Regions from separate parts of the Homo sapiens genome. Here region 1 is linked to region 2. The links come from fine-mapping of genetic effects on gene expression. A gene starts in region 2. The other region holds a variant in brackets. All regions are shown on one strand. Distances are between the middles of the regions.

What was found. PIP is the estimated chance that this variant, and not a neighbour inherited with it, causes the effect.
Region 1: its variant is fine-mapped to the expression of COG4 in blood mononuclear cells (TOPMed, PIP above 0.99).

Annotation. Positions count from the first base shown.
Region 1 is chr16:70,476,489-70,485,009 of GRCh38, reverse strand. FCSK (fucose kinase) reads right to left here. Exons shown (of 24, transcript NM_145059.3): 21 at 6,551-6,738; 22 at 6,360-6,459; 23 at 5,607-5,830; 24 at 4,736-5,431. The coding sequence ends at 5,330. COG4 (component of oligomeric golgi complex 4) reads left to right here. Exons shown (of 19, transcript NM_015386.3): 14 at 1,041-1,157; 15 at 2,189-2,281; 16 at 2,835-2,918; 17 at 3,145-3,246; 18 at 3,523-3,651; 19 at 3,866-4,439. The coding sequence ends at 4,000. Among named protein-coding and RNA genes, the nearest start is that of FCSK, 26 kb to the right of the region's middle. RefSeq lists a silencer at 5,810-6,104 and enhancers at 7,736-7,905, 8,046-8,315. The variant C/T (reference allele first, on the strand shown) is at 4,322.
Region 2 is chr16:70,519,808-70,532,193 of GRCh38, reverse strand. COG4 (component of oligomeric golgi complex 4) reads left to right here and starts at 8,640. Exons shown (of 19, transcript NM_015386.3): 1 at 8,640-8,821. The coding sequence starts at 8,651. It overlaps SF3B3 (splicing factor 3b subunit 3), which reads right to left and starts at 8,378. Exons shown (of 26, transcript NM_012426.5): 1 at 8,266-8,378; 2 at 5,468-5,607; 3 at 2,995-3,321; 4 at 1,277-1,449. The coding sequence starts at 5,537. It overlaps SNORD111B (small nucleolar RNA, C/D box 111B), which reads right to left and starts at 2,695; the gene lies at 2,595-2,695. RefSeq lists enhancers at 7,097-7,834, 8,868-9,007.

The DNA of each region.
Region 1 (8,521 bases), 45 kb after region 2:
ATAATTTTACCTATTTCATAAAGGAGATACTTTTTTTTATGAAGGTCAAAGTAACTTACAATAGTTGTGGGGGTTTTTTGGTTTTCATTTTGTTTTGTTTTTAAGTAGAATAGGTACTTTGTTCTCACTCTGCTGCCCGGGCTGGAGTGCAGTGGCAGTCATAGCTCTCTGCAACCTTGAACCCTTGGGCTCAAGGGATCCTCTCGCCTCAGCCTCCTGAGTAGCTAGGGATGCAGGGGCGCACCACTACATCCAGCTAATTCTTTAATTTTCTGTGGAGACGGCTTCTCACTATGTTTCCCTGCTGTTCTTAAACTCTGGCCGCAAGTGGTCCTTGCACCTTGGCCTCCCAAAGTGCTAGAATTACCCGCATGAGCCACCTCGCCCAGCCTGGTACTTTAATAAAAGTGAAATGCTTAGAACAAAGCCAGGTATACAGTACGCCCTTAAACCTTAGCTATGATCTTGACCATCCCCTTTGGTAGCCATACCAAAATATTTAAGAAGCAGAAACTGACTTTTGTGGTTTTTTGGTAAATTTAAATAAAATTTAAGAAGAAGTAAATAAATATAAAAGGGGGGGAAAGGAGGAACTATAGCAATAATAGCTAGTGTCTCCTGTGCCAGGCATTGAGCTAGGCACGTTGTGCTTCATCTCATACATGAGGAGCAGGAATTGGTGTTCCCATTTTATAGACAGGAAAATTGAAGCTCAGAAACTTTAAATCATTTGCCCAAGGTCACTCAACTAATACATGACTGAGCCAGGACTTGAACCTAGGAATGTCTGACTCTAAAGACAGGAAAAACTTTCTGGTATTTCTGTTTCTTACTCACTTCCCCGACATTGGTACCCCCATATTACAGAGGGGGAAGTGGGAGCCAAGTGGATAACCACCAGGATAGAATCCAGGTTTTCTGAAACCCATCCGGGCTCTTGACAGGCCATAGCTGGCTGGAGGAGTAGAACTGGCTGGTGGCTCCTCACACTCCCATGGCCCACGCGTGCTCGGTGGTCTTACAGCAGTGTTCTCCCCTAGAGTGACTGCACCAAGCTCTTCAGCCAGGGCATTGGAGGGGAGCAGGCCCAGGCCAAGTTTGACAGCTGCCTTTCTGACTTGGCCGCCGTGTCCAACAAATTCCGAGACCTCTTGCAGGTAAGCCCCAGGTTCAACTGCTGACTGAATCCTGTGCCTGTGTGTTGCTCTGAGAAGATTGTTAGCTGGCTCATCGTGTGCAAGGAAGCCAGGAGGACGGGTGAGGGAGCAGCACGCAAGCCCTGGAGCCTGGAGTTGTGCAGGTCCCTTGAGACTAAAGGCCCTGTTGGTTTCTCAGCAGTGAAGTTGTCACACTGACAAGCCAACATCTGGTGCTCTAGACTTTGCACTTGGCCCCACAATGACAAGAGCTCTCAGAAGATGCTCAGAGGAAGTGGAGCCACATGGTTGTTCTGACCTAGCCGCAGGTGCTGCCTAACATTGAGCATTCTGAAATCTCTTGTGAGAGTTTATCAGAACAGTCTCAAGGCCTCATCGTTACCCTGGACCTGAATCAGCTGAGATCTGGAAAGGGGCATGTTCCTGGCTCCTCCTTTCATTAGCACTAGCTCTGTTATAACCTCCAACAGGGCCTGCAGAAAGCCTCAGGGCTGGAAGAACGCCCTGCAGTCAAGGGATGGGGAGAGGAGAGAGGGAAGGGATGGGGAGAGGAGAGGAGGATGGGGTGGGGAGAGGAGAGAAGGAAGGGATGGGGAGAGGAGAAGGGGATGCGGTGGGGAGAGGAGAGAGGGAAGGGGTGGGGAGATGAGAGGGATGGGGTGGGGAGAGGAGAGAGGGAAGGGGTGGGGAGAGGAGAGAGGGAAGGGGTGGGGAGACGAGAGAGGGATGTGGTGGGGAGAGGAGAGAGGGATGGGGTAGGGAGAAAAGAGGGATGGGGTGGGGAGAAGAGAGGGAAGGAGTGGGGAGAGGAGAGGGAAGGGGTGGGGAGAGGAGAGGGAAGGGGTAGGGAGAGGAGAGGGAAGGGGTGGGGAGAGGAGAGAAGGAAGAAATGGGGAGAGGAGAGAAGGAAGGGATGGGGAGAGGAGAGGAAAGGGATGGGGAGAGGATAGAGGGAAGGGATGGGGAGAAGAGAGAGGGAAGGGATGAGTCGTGCCTTCTGTGTCACATGTCTCCACCTTGTCCTTGTGCAGGAAGGGCTGACGGAGCTCAACAGCACAGCCATCAAGCCACAGGTGCAGCCTTGGATCAACAGCTTTTTCTCCGTCTCCCACAACATCGAGGAGGTTAGCCTGGCCACAGGCAGCCATCAAGCCCCGATGACCCCTCATCCCTAGCCCCAGCTAGAGGGAGCAGAGCCATCTGAACAGACTAGACCTTCCATGCTTCCCAGGCCCACTTCCCCCACCCTGACCCATGAAGACTAGGTTCCTCCCAGGAAACAGTTTGTCCCTAGTCAGAAGGGCTCAGAAAGACATGGAGTTTGCCTTGACCTAACTTATTCCCTTATTGGAGCTCTTTTTGCCCCGCCTATGATAGACTTAGAAGCGTTTTTTTCCTCCTGGCGTAGTGATTTCATTCCTGTAGAACAAGAGATCCAAGAAGGAATAAAATGCCAGGAACTTTACCATGTTATGTGGGCCACTGCTACAGCCCTGGGCTGTTTGCTGGTCAGTTTCTGCCAGCCTGGGTGTCTGAGCTGGTTTTAAACTAGATGAGTCAGAAGGCACAGGGAAGGAAGAATGTTTTACATTATTTTCTTAGAGGGATAGAGGTGGGTGGCAATGAATGGTACTTCTTATGAGGCCCATGGTGACCAGCCCTGCTTCCTGACAACAGGAAGAATTCAATGACTATGAGGCCAACGACCCTTGGGTACAACAGTTCATCCTTAACCTGGAGCAGCAAATGGCAGAGTTCAAGGTGAGCAGGGGCCCTAGGGATCCACTTAGGGAATTACCCACGTCAGCCCAAACCAGCAGCCTGCAGGGTCTCATCACATTCCTTCTGGGGACCCTGAAAGCCCTTCCAACCCTCACCTGTAGAAACTCCCCCGTGGCCTCACGCTACTATCCTCACCACCTAAGACTCCAGCATAGAGGCAGAGGAGTTAGGTGGGGCTCGGCTGATGTCAACCCTCTGTGTGCAGGCCAGCCTGTCCCCGGTCATCTACGACAGCCTAACCGGCCTCATGACTAGCCTTGTTGCCGTCGAGTTGGAGAAAGTGGTGCTGAAATCCACCTTTAACCGGGTAAGGTAAAGGGGTCATGGGTCTGCGGCTCTCGTTTCTCCTCTGAGGAAGACATGTCATGCCACCACCCCCAGGACTTGCATCCCCTCTGTCTGCTGCCCACAGGCCCTGCATGTCTGGGTCCAGTCCTGCTCTGGCTTCTGAAGCCGTAGAGCAAACAAACCACAGGGCACCACCTGAGGCCTGGCGGGCCTTGCCACCCAGCTCTGGGGGCAACTGGAGGCCAGTTCTGCTTGGCCAGGCCTAAGTAGTGACTGGGCTTGGGTTCTCCTGCAGCTGGGTGGTCTGCAGTTTGACAAGGAGCTGAGGTCGCTCATTGCCTACCTTACCACGGTGACCACCTGGACCATCCGAGACAAGTTTGCCCGGCTCTCCCAGATGGCCACCATCCTCAATCTGGAGCGGGTAGGTGGGGCACCCTTGGCCCAGCCAGGGAGGGGTGACTGAAAGAGGCAAAGATGGATCCCCGCCACTTCCCTCTAAACCATGTCTGCCAGCAGCCAGCTCTATAGGACACCTTCCCCTTCCCGGGTGCCCCTGCTCTGCCCCTGGTAGAGGCCAGAGCCCTCTTTCAGAATAACCCCACCTTGCTGACTGGTCTCTATGTCCTTCCCCACAGGTGACCGAGATCCTCGATTACTGGGGACCCAATTCCGGCCCATTGACGTGGCGCCTCACCCCTGCTGAAGTGCGCCAGGTGCTGGCCCTGCGGATAGACTTCCGCAGTGAAGATATCAAGAGGCTGCGCCTGTAGCTGCCTGGATGAGCACACCTGGCTCATCACACTTGCAGGCCTGTTCCCTAAGGGGCCCCAGCCAAGGAGCTGAGCGAGGCTGTCTGGCTTGGGGGAGATCTGACAGCCCAGACCTTTCTACGGCTGGCAGCAGAGAAACAAAGTCTGGACCCACTCCATGCTCTGCCCTCAGACCTGGCCAGGTGATGCTCTGGGGGCAGCATCTCCCCACCGAGAGAAGCGGGCTCCTAATGAGGTGGGAAAGCCACGGCAGGCAGCGAGCAGCCCAGGCCAGCTTTCTGCATGGATGGTCAGTCTCTTGCCCTCAAACACTACAGCAAA[C/T]AAGCTACCCCTGCCAGTCCTAGACAACTTGGGTACATCTGGGGACCTAGCAGTTAGGCTTGACTTTGAGGAGAGGCTGTGATGTTTATGATCCCTGAATAAAGCTACTCCTTGGAGAGATGCCAGTGTGCTGTTACCAGGGAGGGCCAGATGCTATGGGGCAGGGCAGGTCTATCAGTTGCACTGAAATAGGAAGGTAAAACCCAAGACCTCAGCCTGCTCCCACACACAGTGCAGCACACAGCTGTGTCCGGGGCCCACATGATGGCAGGAGCCCCCATCCAGTCCCAGACCCTCGTGCCCCTCTTGGGCCCCCAGCACCACAAGCTGGATCACCCCAGGGCCAGTTCCCCATGGTGTAGAGAAGTGGGAACTGCTCCCAGCAGGAGCAAAAGTGACTTTACGAGGACCACCTGCAAGGACAGAGTGAATTTATTCCAAGAATGCCAGTCCTGAGAACCCACTTCCCACAGGCACCAGGTCACTTGGCACGCTCCGTAGTTTTGCTAGTTAAGGCCTGGGATGGCAGTGAATCACTGGGTCACTGCTACCAACTTGGCAAGGGACCGCCACCCTCACTCCCACGCTCACATGAGGGTTGAGTGTAAGTCTACAACTCTAAGCCATAGGGAATGCCTCAAAGGGCCTCTTCAGGGTTGGCCTTGCTAAGGGACTCCCAGCCATATGCCAAGGCTGGCTGTCAACCCTTTCCAGGGCCCTTGTGGAATGAGAAGGCCAGCCATAGGATTTGTAAAGGCCACGTGGGATACTAAGCTTGGGACCTTCCTATGTCCAGGAGGAACAGAGGCTACATCTAGGCCCCTGTCCACCAGGTCACAGTCCTGTCCCAGGCACTCTCTGCTTGCCCAGATCTTGCTCTGGTCAGCTTCCTTTGGGAGCAGATTCGCAGAGGTGGGTGGGGAGTAGGAGGTGGAGGTTCCCATGGGGCAAGGAAGGTGGGGGACACTGTAGCTCCAGGTTTTCTCCTGTTGCAGAGAGAAGCCAGCTTCATGGGAAAGGGCAACAGGTTGAGGCCTCGGTCCCCAGCAGCTTCAGGCTCAGGCCCTGAGTGTCCACTTCAACCAGGTGGATGCTGTAATTCCCAAGGCCCTGGACAAGACAGGAAGTATTTAGAAGGCTCTGGACAAATCTCAGGCCTTCTGGAGGCTGGACTGGGCCTGCAGGACCAGGGGGACTTACAGATATAGCCCCTGGTTAACTGGTGGGCCACAGTGAGGTCTCTTGCCCCCAGAGGTCTCTTTACCAACCCCAGCCCCATCAGTACCTCGGTCTTGGCCAGCACCGCCTCCAAGGCCTCCTTTTGCTGTGGCTCCTTGGTCAACAGATAGAGAAAGCCTCCACCGCCTGCCCCAGCCAGGCTCTGGCCATGCACGTGGGGGGCCAGGACATCCATCATACGCCGCACAGTCAGGGGCTCACAGCCTGGAGCCATGAGCTTCTTCTGCTCCCAGTACGAGGTCAGGCACTGGCCCAGCAGAGGCAGGCTTCCTGAGGTGGGGCAGAGGGGAGTGACGTGCCTGGGCCAAGATACTCAGCACCCATCTGGAGATTGCATGAAGTGCCAAGACGTGCTGCTGAGCCAGTGTCATGGTAAAGAAGCCGGATTCCAGTGCCGGCTGGAGCCAGGAGTAACCCACTTCCCAGGACTGCCTGAGGACCAATGTGCAGGAAGCAACCAACACCACACCCAGCATAGTCGGCATCTAGGGAGCTGTGAAGCCACACACTGGGGACCCTGCCCAGCTCAGACTTCCTTGGAACTCAGCCATGGGTTGAGTCCCTTCCCCTCTCTGCTTCCTGTTAGGGCTGGAGGGCCTTTCCCATGATGAAAATTTTGTCCTCAGATGTAGCTCTCCCCTAAATGTGAGACCCTGGAGAGGACAGACAGTAGGCTTCTGTTCCCAGAGGCCGAATATCTGGAGCTTGTGCCAAGCCTGCAGATGACCCTGGCCTCAAACCCACAAGTGACAGAATACTCGCTCCCAGTGCCCTGACCCCCCCAGAGGAAGCCCCTCACCTTGGCGGAAGCCTTCAGCACACTCCTCAGTTTGCCGTACCAGGCTGTGGGCATTCTGCACCACAGCAGGAAGTCGGGCATACCAGCTCCTCAGCACATCCTGCGGACGGGGCAGGAGAAGGGGTGGTGAGGACCCAGGCCCAGCTGGCAGGCCCCCTGCCTGCCTCCCTCATGCTGGGGCCAGAGCTCACCTGCAGCAGGTTCCGAGCCAGGCGGGTCTTGCCAGTGTACACCAAGAGCAGGTGGTCATTGAGCTTCTGGACAAAGCCCTCAGGCACCGTGACCTCTTCTACCTCCACCTTCAGTGGCAGCTGAGCCCGGGAGCGCCCCACCTTGATGCCAGGCATTAGGCCACCTACTTGGTCCTGCCAGCCACCTCCTGTGAGCCCAGGGACTGTCACTGTTGGAGTCTATCTGGCCCAGCTTCACTCTCCCAGCCTAGGCTCCCGGCCCTGCACCCCTTGCTGGGACCAGTGTGGAAAGATAGCTTCCCTCAACTCCACAGGACAGTGAGCTATGCAGCTTCTGTCCCCAGAACAATCCCAGCAAGGGAATGGGCTTCACTCTAGGGCAAAGCTTGGAATTCCCAAGGCCTGAGTTTTGTTTTAGACCTAATGTATAATTGGAATTGGGATAAACCACACTGAAGAATAAAGATTTTACACTATGGCCGGGCACGGTGGCACACGCCTGTAATCACAGCACTTTGGGAGGCTAAGGCGGGCAGATCATTTGAGGTCAGGAGTTTGAGACCAACCTGGCCAACATGGTGAAATCTAGTCTCTACCAAAAATACAAAAATTAGCCAGGCATGGTGGTGCATGCCCTGTAATCCCAGCTTCTAGGGAGGCTGAGGCAAAGGTTGCAGTGAGCTGAGATCGCACCACTGCACTCCAGCCTGGGTGACAATGTGAGACTCTGTCTCAAAAAATACATATTTTACACTGACCTCTGCCCCTCCTAGGGGAGTTTTAGTCAGAGGAGAGGCTGACAGATACCTTCCCTTTGGCCTGAGTCTCCCTGCACCGTCTTCTGACAGGTGGTTTATGTTGGAAGGAAGGTCATCAGGATCTGTTTTTCTCTTATCTAACTTACACATCTTTCCATCTTCAGTAATGAAAGGTATGTATCATTTTCCTCCTTGTAGCTGCATAAAAATAACAAAACTAGTCCGGGCATGGTGGCTCACGCTTGTAATCCCAGCACTTTGGGAGGCCAAGGCAGGCGGATCATGAGGTCAGGAGTTCAAGACGAGCCTGGCCAACACAGTGAAACCCCATCTCTACTAAAAATACAAAAAATTAGCTGGGCATGGTGGCAGGCACCTGTAATCCCAGCTACCTGGGAGGCTGAGGCAGGAGAATCTCTTGAACCCGGGAGGTAGAGGTTGCAGTGGGCTGAGATCGCACCACTGCACTCCAATCTGGGTGACAGAGCTAGACTCCATCTCAAAAATAAAAAAAAATTAAAAATAACAAAACTTGAGTTGCTTCTGGGACAGGCCCTTGATAGTTAGGGAAGGGCCTGCAAGGGTTTAAAGTATGAAATGCAAAAGACAGAAGCCATCTGGAACTTTGCAGCCAAAACCTGGTAGTTGCAAAGTGGCTAAGTCTTGAAATGTCAAGACTTAACTGTGCCCCTCTGCTTCAAAGCACTTGGCACAGTTTGTAATACACATGCACCTGAGTAGTTATTGATTAATGTCTGTCTCCAGGAGACCACAGGACTTTTGAGGGCAGGGACCCCATTTTTGCTCATTTTATCCCTGGGGCCCCACAGAGTGGGTTCTCAACAAATAGTTTTCCGTTGGCCAAATGTAGAACTTGAATGGTACACCTCAAAAGAAAACTGAAAATGCTTCCCCATCTGCTCCTTTTGCTAATGACTACCGATTATGGGATATGAGTCACTACAGTGAAATGTGAGGCTTGAGCTGCAGAGTGACAGAAAACACCACAGTCAGGCTTCAGTAGGCCTTTGCAGCAGTTTCTTTCCAGGGGTGTGCTGGAGACGGGACCTGACACCCTGAGGTGGACCTGAAACCAGACAAGCTGTAGCTGCTCTACACTGGCCATGGGTTCCAGGGGGCTCGGTGGCCAGGAGGAGTGAGAAGCCTGGCGCTGGTGACATTCATTAGATCATAGTCATTGTTGGGCTCTTGC
Region 2 (12,386 bases):
CAGCCTCCCGAGTTGCTGGGATTACAAGCATGTGCCACCACGCCTGGCTAATTTTGTATTTTTAGTAGAGATGGGGTTTCTCCATGTTGGTCAGGCTGGTCTCGAACTCCTGACCTCAGGTGATCTGCCCGCCTCGGCCTCCCAAACTTGGATTACAGGCGTGAGCCACTGTACACGACTGCAGTGGTACAATCTTATCTCACTGCAGCCTAGAATTCCTGGGCCTCAGGCTCCCAAGCAGCTAGGACTATAGGCACATGCCACCACACCTGGCTGACGCCAAATAGTTTGACAAAGTTTATGCTATAAGATAATGGCAGAGCTAGAACGAGAACTGCAATCTCCAAATTCTGGATCCAGGGAGCTCTCTACTAGAGGATACTGCCTTCCGTTAAAGGAAAACAATAGTATGTTCTGTGAAAAAATACCTTAAACATAGCTTCAAGTTTTTCATGAAGCTTTTCCCAATAAATATCTTGTTTCCATAGGGAGATTACTTAAATCAGAGAAAGACTATTAAATAGTTGCTTAACCTCTGAAGCATCCCAAAGAATTTCAGTAAGGCATTTGGAATATGAAGATCTGCTAGCAGGACAGAATTAAGATATGCATAAGGGGCTGGGCCTGGGTGAGGTGGCTCAGGCCTTATAATCCCAGCACTCTGGAAGGCTGAGGTGGGCCAATCACCTGGGGTCAGAAGACCAGCCTGGCCAACATAGTGAAACCCCATCTCTACTAAAAATACAAAAATTAGCTGGGCGTTGTGGCAGCACCTGTAGTCCCAGCTACTCAGGAGGCTGAGGCAGAGGTTGCAGCGAGCTGAGATTGTGCCACTGCACCCCAGCCTGGGCAACAGAGCAAGACTGTCTCAAAAAAAAGAAAAAAAGGTATGCACAAGGAAGAAAACGATCTTTTCGTTTTTTTTTGAGATGGAGTCTCACTCTGTCGCCCAGGCTGGAGTGCAGTGGCGAGATCTCGGCTCACTGCAAGCTCCACCTCCCGGGTTCACGCCATTCTCCTGCCTCAGCTTCCCGAGTAGCTGGACCACAGGCGCCCGCCACGATGCCCGGCTATTTTCTTTTTGTATTTTTAGTAGAGATGGGGTTTCACTGTGTTAGCCAGAATGGTCTCGATCTCCTGACCTCATGATCCGCCAGCCTTGCCTCCCAAAGTGCTGGGATTACAGGCGTGAGCCACCACGCCCGGCCGGAAAACAATCTTAAAAAAAAACACTGAGGTGACTGAAAGAAACGCAAAGAGACAGGGTCCCCATTACCTCATAATCCATTTCCAGACAAGCAAACATTGGATTTTCAAATCCGACATCTACTCCAACTACATGATACACTAAAGTGTTTGCTTTGTGGGCTTCCAGGGGAGATGAAATGGTAAGTCGGGCTGCAGCATCTCTGTTCAAAATATACACCAATTTCTGTTTCTCAATGGCACCTGTAGTTGAAGGAGATAAAACATACAAGATTCCCAGATAATGAGAAGAGAGACTTATAGAACAGCTAGAGTCACATCATGCTTTTCTTTTAATCATTATTAACAGCAGTAACTCTACAAGTATAAAAACTCAGGATTCTGTTTTCTATCATCAGAATAGCACTTTGGGAGGCTGAGGTGGGTGGATCACCTGAGGTCAGGAGTTCAAGACCAGCCTGACTAACACAGTAAAACCTTGTCTCTACTAAATACAAAAAATTAGCTAGGTGTGGTGGTGCATGCCTCTAATCCCAGCTACTTGGGAGGCTGGGGCAGGAGAATTGCTTGAACCTGAGACGCAAAGGTTGCAGTGAGCTGAGATCGCACCACTGCACTCCAGCCTGGGCAACAAGTGCGAAACTCTGCCTCATTTGAAAAAAAAAAAAAAAAAGAATAGACAATAGTGGAGCTGGGCACAGTGGCTCAAGTCTGTAATCCCAGCACTTTGGGAGGCCAAGACAGAAGGAAGGATTGCTTGAGCCCAGGAATTCAAGACCATCCTGGGCAGCATTGTGAGATCCCCATCTCTCTCTTATTTATTTATTTATTTATTTATTTATTTATTTATTTATTTATTTTTGAGATGCAGTCTCACTCTGTCGTCCGGGCTGGAGTGCAGTAGCGCTATCTCGGCTCACTGCAACCTTTGCCTCCCGGGTTCAAGCGATTCTCCTGCCCCAAGTAGCTGGGATTACAGGCACCCACCACCACACCCAGCTAATTTTTTGTATTTTTGGTAGAGACTGGGTTTCACCATGTTGGCCAGGCTGGTCTCAAACTCCTGACCTCAAGTGATCCTCCCACCTTGGCCTCCCAAAGTGCTGGGATTACAGGTGTGAGCCACCGCACCTGGCTGAGACCCCATCTCTTTTAAAGATAAATAGCCACCGTGCCCGGCTGAGACCCCCATCTCTTAAAAATAAATAAATAAATTTTTTTAAAGACAATGGCATCATTGTGGCCCCCTTCTTCCTAATACAGGTCTTAAATATCCCACTAACTAGTCAAAATTTTTTAATGAGTCCTACATTTAAGGATACTGAAAAACAGTAATTCATAAAATTATCATTAGCCTTATTCTCTGAAATAGATCTAACGATTTATGACTGCCCTCTAGAGGCCTGATCAGACACACAAAAATTTTCTTCAAGAATTTATCAGAGAAGAGACATGAATGTGAATCATCACTTCAGGCTGATGAAAGCAACGATATTCACTGTCTAATAACATAAGATCATTTCATTGTAGTCTTTTTGCCAAAGAAAAAGAAATTGAAAAACACCCATTTCCAACTAGATGGGAAGTAGAAAGGTGTGTTAAGATTTTTCCCATTGTTTTAAAAGAAAATGCAACTCTTTTAAAAAGGAAATGCAACTTTAAACCTAGAGTAAATCCAAACATGATGCCAAACCCACATAAGTAATTAATTGGCACTGGCACACCACCAAGAGCACAGCATTGTTATCCTAAACTAGGCATATACAGCAAGTAGAGTAAATCACTTACTAATCATAACGGCTCGCCCTTTGGGATCCACAGCTAAGAACTGGCCAGGAACGATGCGACGGCATCCACTCTTGCCAAAGGTTTCTTGGTGAATCTTCTCAAACATATTCTTAGATGGCTGGTATTCCAAAATAACAATTCGACCAGAGTCACTGCCAACTACAATGTAGTCTTTGGTGCCACCTGTCAGCCTAAAGGCCATGAGTGACCGGATAACACCGAATACTTCCACAGTGAGTAGGGTATGTACTTTGCCAGTGTTGGGGTCTGGGCGAAGCAGCTCCAAGATCTTCCCACGGGAAACAACAATTTCTTGTTGTTTGGTTCCTAGATCACCAAAAAATAAAGATCATAAACAACCAGAACCCAGCCTGGCCACCATGGTGAAACCCCGTCTCTACTAAAAATACAAAAATTAGCCAGGCGTGGTGGCACATGCCTGTAATCCCAGCTACTCGGGAGGCTAAGGCAGGAGAATCGCTTGAACCCAGGAGGTAGAGGTTGCTGTGAGCCAAGACTGTGCCACTGCACTCCGGCCTGGGCAACAGAGCAAAACTCCGTCTCAAAAAAAAATTAGTCAGGTGTGATGGCCTGTGCCTCTAGTCCCAGCTACGTGGGAGGACAGTTTGAACCCAGGAGTTCAGAGAATGTAGTGGGTTATAATCCTGCCATTGCACTCCATCCTGGGAAACGCAGCAAGATATCGTCTCTAAAAAAAAAAAAAAAAAAAAAAAAGGCCACGCACAGTGGCTCACACCTGTTATCCCAGCACTTTGGGAGGCTGAGGCAGGCAGATCACTTGAGGTCAGGAGTTTGAAACCAGCCTGGCCAACATGGTGGGATCCCATCTCTACTAAAAATACAAAAATTAGCCAGGTGTGGTGGCACGTGCCTATAATCCCAGCTACTCCAGAGGCTGACACAGGAGAATCGCTTGAACCTGGGAGACGGAGTTTGCAGTGAGCCGAGGTCGCACTACTGTACTCCAGCCTGGGCAACACAGCAAGACTACGTCTCAAAAAAAAAAAAAAAAAAAAGAAAACTTCTCCATCATTTTAGATAAAAAGGAAGACTGAATTGGAAAAGGAATTTGAAAGATAAAATTAGTATTAAAAATGTGCTTTCAGCAGGGCACAGTAGCTCATGCCTGTAATCCCAGCACTTTGGGAGGCTAAGGTGGGTGGATCACGAGGTCAGGAATTCGAGATCAGCCTGGCCAATATGGTGAAACCTCATCTCTACTAAAAATATGAAAAATTAGCCGGGCATGGTGGTGCACGCATGTAATCCCAGCTACTCAGGAGGCTGAGGCAGGAGAATCGCTTGAACCCAGGAGGCGGAGGTGGCAGTGAGCCAAGATCACACCACTGCGCTCCAGCCTGGGTGACAGAGCAGGACTCTGTTTCAAGGAAAAAACAAAAACAAAAACAAAACAAACAAAAAACAAAAACAAAACAAACAAAAAACAAAAACGTGCTTTCAAAAATTCTATCCAAACTCCAGCTGAGATTCATTGCATTACATAGTGAAGTCAGTCACAAATCTCCAAATTCCCATATACGTATTTCCTTAATCAAATGCAGCAAAGAATAACTAAATTACCCAAATGAAGACTCAAACCCGCAGGAAGAGCCATAATGAGGATCAGAGAAAATAACAACATGAAATATGAATGCTGTGTGGTCAGTTAGGCTGCCTCTCAGTACCACATTAAGTATTCAGTACCACATTAAGTATTCAGAGTTAAACCTCAACAAAATTATGTCTTACTCTACACAATCATGAACCTCCTGCATTACTTGGATTGACTCAAAAATGTTAAATCTGCAAATGGCAAGAAAAAGTTTTTATTTTATAAACATTAGTACCTCACTTTCAGTAACTTTGTATTTCCTAATCCAATATTTGAAATTTCACACAATTCAAACCTAGCCTTAATCCATCTTTACAAAAATATTCCCCACATGGTAAACGTAAGCAAATTATCTGTTTCTATGCAGACAGCACTCCCTACCTAAACTGCATTTTCCCTTTTCTCTCATACAAAAGTTCTATCTCTTCAAGCACCAAACCAAGGTCCAACCTTCCCTTTATTTAAATTACTCTCTGATAACCAGACAAACACCTTCAGACATTCTTTTTACCCAACCTGATGTCAAATTCAAGATCAAAGATCAGGTCTTACACATCTCAGTATGTCTTACAGCAATAGGCACACGACTTGGCACTAGGTAAGCAGCCAAGAAAAGTGTGCCCTGACAAGAATCATTACACAATTTGTGAACTAGGAAATGCATCTGAAATAGGTAACAGATAATGCACCAGAACTTAACACCTCATCTCATAATTTGAATTGTTTACATTTACCAACAACTGTTTTGTCATAAATGGAAAACATTTCCTGCACAAGAGACTAAGCAAGATATGTATTAATTCACTTAAAATTTCAAAAGATGGTAACGAGAGAACTTACCAGAAAAGTTTCCATGAATGGCAAAGCTGATGCCAGTGGCTCTCTGCAAGGTTAAGTTGTACAGAAACATGGCTGCAGGAAACCTGAGCCACCCAGACCTCCAGGCCTTGGTTACACCAACAGTACGGAGTCCAAGAAAGCTAAGAAAACAGAAAACAGAAAAATAGCTGGGAGACTATTACTTCAACAGACATTTCTGTATGGGAAATTCTGGATGAAGACAGCAGAACCAGCAGAGCAAGCCCTATTAAGAAACAACATATGTGACCGGGCGTGGTGGCTCACGAGGTCAGGAGTTCGAGACCAGCTTGGGCAACACAGTGAAACCCCGTCTCTACTAAAAATACAAAAATTAGCTGGGCATGGTGCTGTGCGCCTGTAGTCCCAGCTACTCGGGAGGCTGAGGCAGGAGAATCGCTTGAACCTGGGAGGCGGAGGTTGTGGTGAGCCAACATCATGCCACTGCACTCCAGGCTGGGCGACAGAATGAGACCTCATCTCAAAAAAAAAAATAAATAAATAAAAAGCACGGGACCTTGAGAAATCCAAGGTCATTAGTATAGAATTAACATACATATTTGATTTTATTGTTAAACGAGAAGAGAGAATTATGAGTAAACGTCCTCATAAATAACTTTCTGGGCTGAGCAAAAGCAGGGTGGCAAGATCAATGCTCCAGGCTAGAAATGGGTCCTGAGAGATATAAAATTTTCTACTTGAGACTAAGGTATATCTTTTTTTTTTCCTTTTTTTTTTTTTTTTTTTTTTTGAGGCGTCTCAATCTGTCGCCCAGGCTGGAGTGCAGTGGCGCCATCTTGGCTTACTGCAAGCTCCGCCTCCTGGGTTCACACCATTCTCCTGCCTCAGGCTCCCGAGTAGCTGGGACAACAGGCGCCCGCCACCACACCCGGCTAATTTTTTGTATTTTTAGTGGGGTTTCACCATGTTAGCCAGGATGGTCTCGATCTCCTGACTTCGTGATCCGCCCGCCTCCGCCTCCCAAAGTGCTAGGATTACAGGCGTTGAGCCACCGCGCCCAGCCCATAGACTAAGGTATATGTTTAACGTTCTAGGACCACAGTAAAACATGAACGAAAAGGACCGATGTTGAAAGACCAGGGAGTGGAGAAACAACAAAAAAAGCAAAAGAGAGGAAGCTAGGAGCTGCTTCTGAATCCCTGAACAGCTCCCCGCAAGTTACTTTTCATATTTTGTAGCTGATCAAAACAGTCTACTTTCCCCTTTCCTTATAACTGATACAATCCATTACAAACCTTTGGAATTCATTTTTTCCCAAATCTAGTTGGATTCAGGTTCTCCAGCGACACCTTAACTTTGGATCGTGGAGGAAGGTGCATTTCGGAGGATCAGTCCAGTACTAGAAAAACTATATACGAGGCCAGGCGCAGTGGTGGCTCACGCCTGTAATCCCAGCACTTTGGGAGGCCGAGGCAAATGGGTCACTTGAGGTCAGGAATTGAGACCAGCCTGGCCAACACAGTGAAAACCCCTCTACTAAAAATGCAAAAACTAGCCGGGCGCGGTGGCACACGCCTTTAATCTCAGCTACTCGGGAAGCTGAGGCGTGAGAATAGCTAGAACCAAGGAGGAGGAGGCTGCAGTAAGCCGAGATCAAGCCGCTGCGCTCCAGCCTGGGCGACAGCGAGACTTCGTCTCAAAAACAAAACAAACAAACAAAAAATACATACCAGATAAATTTGGTAAGCTTTAAAACTTCCCCCACGTCTGGGCCGGGCGCGGTGTCTCACACCTGTAATCCCAACACTTTGGGAGGCCAAGGCGGGTGGATCAAGGTCAGGAGATCGAGACCATCCTGGCTAACACAGTGAAACCCCGTCTCTACTAAAAATACAAAAAATTAGCTGGGCGCGGTGGCGGGCGCCTGTAGTTCCAGCTACTCGTGAGGCTGAGGCAGGAGAATGGCGTGAACCCGGAAAGCGGAGCTTGCAGTGAGCAGAGATCGCGCCACTGCACTCCAGCCTGGGCGACAAAGCGAGACACCGTCTCAAAAAAAGAAAAATTAGCCGGGCGTGGTGGCACGCGCCCGTAATCCCAGCTAGTCTACTCGGGAGGCTGAGGTAAGAGAATCGCTGGAACCCGGGAGGCAGAGATGGCAGTGAGCCGAGATCGCGCCACTGCTCTCCAGTCTGGGCGACAGACTGTGACTCCGTCACAAAAACAAAACAAAACAAAACAAAAAAAACTTCCCCCACGTCTGTTTACCATTATTACAAAAAGCTTGTATGATTGCTCACTGCATCTTCTCCATCCTCCAAGGAAACATCATCGCATTTAAACTCTGTCCTCCATTACGCAAACGAGAAAATAGAGGTTCAGAGGAGGAGACAAGTTGCCCAACTACCAAAATACAAATTCAAACCGGAGTCTTGGCTCTAAAGACTGTTTCCGTTATTTACGCTTTTAACACGCTCCATCTTTCTATCTTCCCCTCGGTGTACCATTTACTCTACCCAGAGGGAGACATCCATGCCTCCCGCTGCTTGTCACACCTCCCCCGTCTCAGAGTCCCCAGAAGTTAAAAGCAATCTCCACGAGCCCTATTTTGAGATAGAATATGTTCCCACACTGTGGATGGAAGCGAGAGATAACTGCAGGAAGCCGTTTTGGCGCCTCAACCATCCCTCGGTACCTCCTCCTGGTCCCCAGCCTCTCGGGCCTAGACTGCCCGTGACCCCCGCCAAAGTCTCGGGTCCCCCTTCCATATGGCCGGTCTCCGCCTCCCCGGGCCCGGGGAAGTCTCCAGGCTGTTTTTTTACCCTGCAGCGAGAAGGATGGTGTGGATATCCAACGGATGCTACCTCCCTTCAAAACTTAAGCCACCACCAACTCCAACATACTGGCGTCCGCCATTAGACCTCAAGACAGGGACATTCTGGTGGCGCGCGGCGGAAAAAGGCACCCAATCCGCGCCTGAAGAATATATATAATTTTTAAAAAATGCTTCCGTCTTGCTTCCACACGGCATTACAAATTATTTAAACATGCTTTATTGCTTTGCTTTTTCCAGGAGAATAGAAAATTAATACGTTTTTAGAAGTAGACTTTAAAAAAAAAAAACCATTAGAGTTCATTGGGCACTTCTGTGGGCAGCCCCAAATAGGCGCCAACGAAGAGGGGGCCTCGCGGGACCGGAAGTGCCGAATGGGGACCAAGATGGCGGACCTTGATTCGCCTCCGAAGCTGTCAGGGGTGCAGCAGCCGTCTGAGGGGGTGGGAGGTGGCCGCTGCTCCGAAATCTCCGCTGAGCTCATTCGCTCCCTGACAGAGCTGCAGGAGCTGGAGGCTGTATACGAACGGCTCTGCGGCGAGGAGGTGCGGGGTCGAGCCTCTTCTTTTTCATGGAGGATCTAGGGAGAGTGGGAGCCTTCAGTCGGGAAATCCGGGCTGTGGGAAACTCTCCTTGCTGGGGGATACAAAAAAGCGGGAAAACAAAGAAGCGGAAGCTAGTCGGGTATATGAGTAGTCCTGTCAACTCTTTTCACGCTGTCGGACGCGCCGAGCTTGTCTTCCCTGATACCTGGGCGATCTGCAGCCTCTCCTCCCTAGACCCCCGTTGATTTCCCTGATCCATGATCACCAGTTTCTCCACGGGAGTAAAGTTAGTCTGAGAGTATTTGCCAAATTGCTTGGTTCTCAAAATAATAAGCGCCCTTTTGCATTGGCTTAATTTACAAATTATGAAACGCTCTCATCCTGTTATTTAAGAGGGAAGCCTTTGCAGATTAACTTCTTGAAGCGTTTTAAGACTTCCTCTTGTGGGGAGTGATTTGGGGGTGTGATTTTAGCGTTTTGGTCAAATGCACATCTTTGTAGAGGTTTAGCTTTTAAGACTCAGACACAATTCTCTAATCTTGGACAAGTCACTTCATCTCTGGTACCCTTGATATTTTATCAAATGAGGGGTGTGGACTATTCTCCAATTCCTTTCAGTTCATAACGTTCTATTTCCTGCCTCCTTTAATTTTCAGTGGCAACTCGATGCTGTCAATTCACTTTCGAATGTCAGTTGGGTTCCTTGCTAGTCAAAAGAGATCTAAGCTCTAAGCTTGTCAGCTGTTTCCCAGACCAAACTTCTAGCAAAGTTGAGCACAAAAGGCAGTTTCAGCCTGAGGGAGAGGTGATCGTTGATATCTTTGAGTATTTTCAAGTATAAACTTGCACTAACTCTAGCAGTTTCTGATACGTTTTTCAGCAAGATGTGTGTGGTGTTTTTTGTTTTGTTTTGTTATTTTTAGAAACAGGGCCGCTCTCTGTTGCGCAGGCTGGAGTGCTGTTGTGCTGCAATCAGAATGGATGAAACCAGAGGCGCACACCACCGTGCCTGGCTAGTTTAGTGTGTGGGGCTTTTTTTGTCTGGCCTCAGCAAGATGTGTTTTAAAATTTAGTATCTTGCGGGGCGCGGTGGCTCACGCCTGCCATCCCAGCACTTTGGGAGGCCAAGACGGGAGGATCACCTGAGTCAGGAGTTCGAGACCAGCATGACCAAAATGGTGAAAACCATCACTACTAAAAATACAAAACTAGCCGGGTGTGGTGACGCATGCCTGTAATCCCAGCTACTCGGGAGGCTGAGGCAGGAGAATTGCTTGAACCTGGGAGGCGGAGGTTGCAGTGAACCAAGATAGCGCCATTACACTCTAGCCTGGGCAACAAGAGCAAAATTGTGTCTCTTAAAAAAAAAAAAAGCCTGGCGCGGTGGCTCACTCCTGTAACCCCAGCACTTTGGGAGGCTGAGGCAGATGGATCACGAGGTCAGGAAATCGAGACCATCCTGGCTAACACAGTGAAACCCCGTCTCTACTAAAAATACAAAAAATTAGCCGGGCGTGGTGGCGGGCGCCTGTAGTCCCAGCTACTCGGGAGGCTGAGGCAGGAGAATGGCGTGAACCAGGGAGAAGGAGCTTGCAGTGAGCCGAGATCGCACCACTGCACTCCAGCCTCGGCGACAGAGTGAGACTCTGTCTCAAAAAAAAAAAAAAAAAAAATTTAGTATCTTGACTTAACATTCCTAAGCTCGCATTCATTCAGTCATTTAATATGTTGGGTGGAAAATTATGGAAATCTTACAGACAAAATGATATAAGTACTGTATTTGTATTCCATGACTGTCAAGAGGACGTTTTCCTCTGGAACCTACAGAACGATTTTAATAAAAATGTATATGGCCGGGCTTGGTGTCTCATGCCTGTAATACCAGCAGTTTGGGAGGCCGAGGCGGGTGGATCACCCGAGGTCAGGAGTTCGAGACCAACCTGGCCAACGTGGCGAAACCATGTTAGTCTCTACTAAAAATGCAAAAGTTAGCCGGGTGTGATGGTGGGCGTCTATAATCCCAGCTAATTGGGAGGCAGAGGCATGAAAATCGCTTGAACCCCAGGGCAGGGAGGTTGCAGTGAGCCAAGATCAGGCCACTTCACTCCAGCCTGGGTGAAAGAGCGAAACTCGTCTCAAAAAAAAAAAAAAGTATAGCTGCCTGGGCACAAGTGGCTCATGCCTCTAATCGCAGTTCTTTGGGAGGCTGAGATGGGCAGATAGCTTGAGCTATAGTTGGAGACCAGCCTGGGCAATAGCAGATAGTTGGGGACCAGCCTGGGCAATATAGTGAGACCTCGTGGCTACAAAAAAATTAAACAGTGGACCAGGGTTGTGCACGCCTATAGTCACAGATATTTGGGGGGCTGGGGTAGGAAGAGCACTTGAGCCCCCGCAAAAAATAAAAATGTATGGTTAATTTTAATGGCTGTTGTTGAACTATATGCCACATACCATGTTAAGCACTTTGTGTGGTTTCCTGTTTGACTCATTCAACAGCCCAGTGAGATTGGTATTGCTATCCTAGTTTTACAGATGAAAAAACCGAAGCATAAAAATGTTACATAAATTGAGGTTGCACAATAAATGGCTTGAATGAGAGATAATTATATTTATAACCCCTGGCTACTGACTATGCACCAAGAAGAAAAATTTTGGTAACTGTCACTGGAAATTTCATTTCAGCAAGATGTGTGTGGTGTTTTTTGTTTAGGCATTGTATTTTCTTTTTTTTTTTTTTGAGACAGCGTTTCACTCTTGTTACCCAGGTTGGAGTGAAATGGCACGATCTCGGCTCACTGCAACCTCCACTTCCCGGGTTCAAGTGATTCTCCTACCTCAGCCTCCTGTGTAGCTGGGATTACAGGCCCCCGCCACCACACCCAGCTAATTTTGTTTTTTGTTTTTTGTTTTTGAGACGGAGTCTCACTTTGTTGCCCAAGCTGGAGTGCAGTGGCATGATCTCGGCTCACTGCAAGCTCCGCCCCCCCCCCCCCCCACCCCCCGGGTTCATGTCATTCTCCTGCCTCAGCCTCCTGAGCAGCTTGGGCTACAGGCGCCCGCCACCACACCCGGCTAATTTTTTGTATTTTTATATTTTTAGTAGAGACAGGGTTTCACCGTGTTATCCAGGATGGTTTCGATCTCCTGACCTCGTGATCCGCCTGCCTTGGCCTCCCAAAGTGCTGGGATTACCGACGTAAGCCGCCGCGCCCAGCCTAATTTTGTATTTTTAGTAGAGATGGGGTTTCACCATGTGGCCAGGCTGGTCATGAACTCCTGACCTCAGGTGATCCACCCACCTGGGCCTCCCAAAGAGCTGGGATTACTTTGGGATCCAGTGCTGGCCAGGCATTGTATTTTAAATGCCTTCCTGTATTAGGCACTATGCTAATGATACTGATTAAAAGTTTATTTCTTCCTATTATGGTGCTCATCTGCCAGGTGGAATAAGATATACGTAAGATAACAATCATGCAACATAAGTGCAAAATGAAGCATTGTTAAAGTCTAAGGAGAACATAGTGGAAGGAAAAAAGGACTTGGAAATGAGATTCACCCTTCA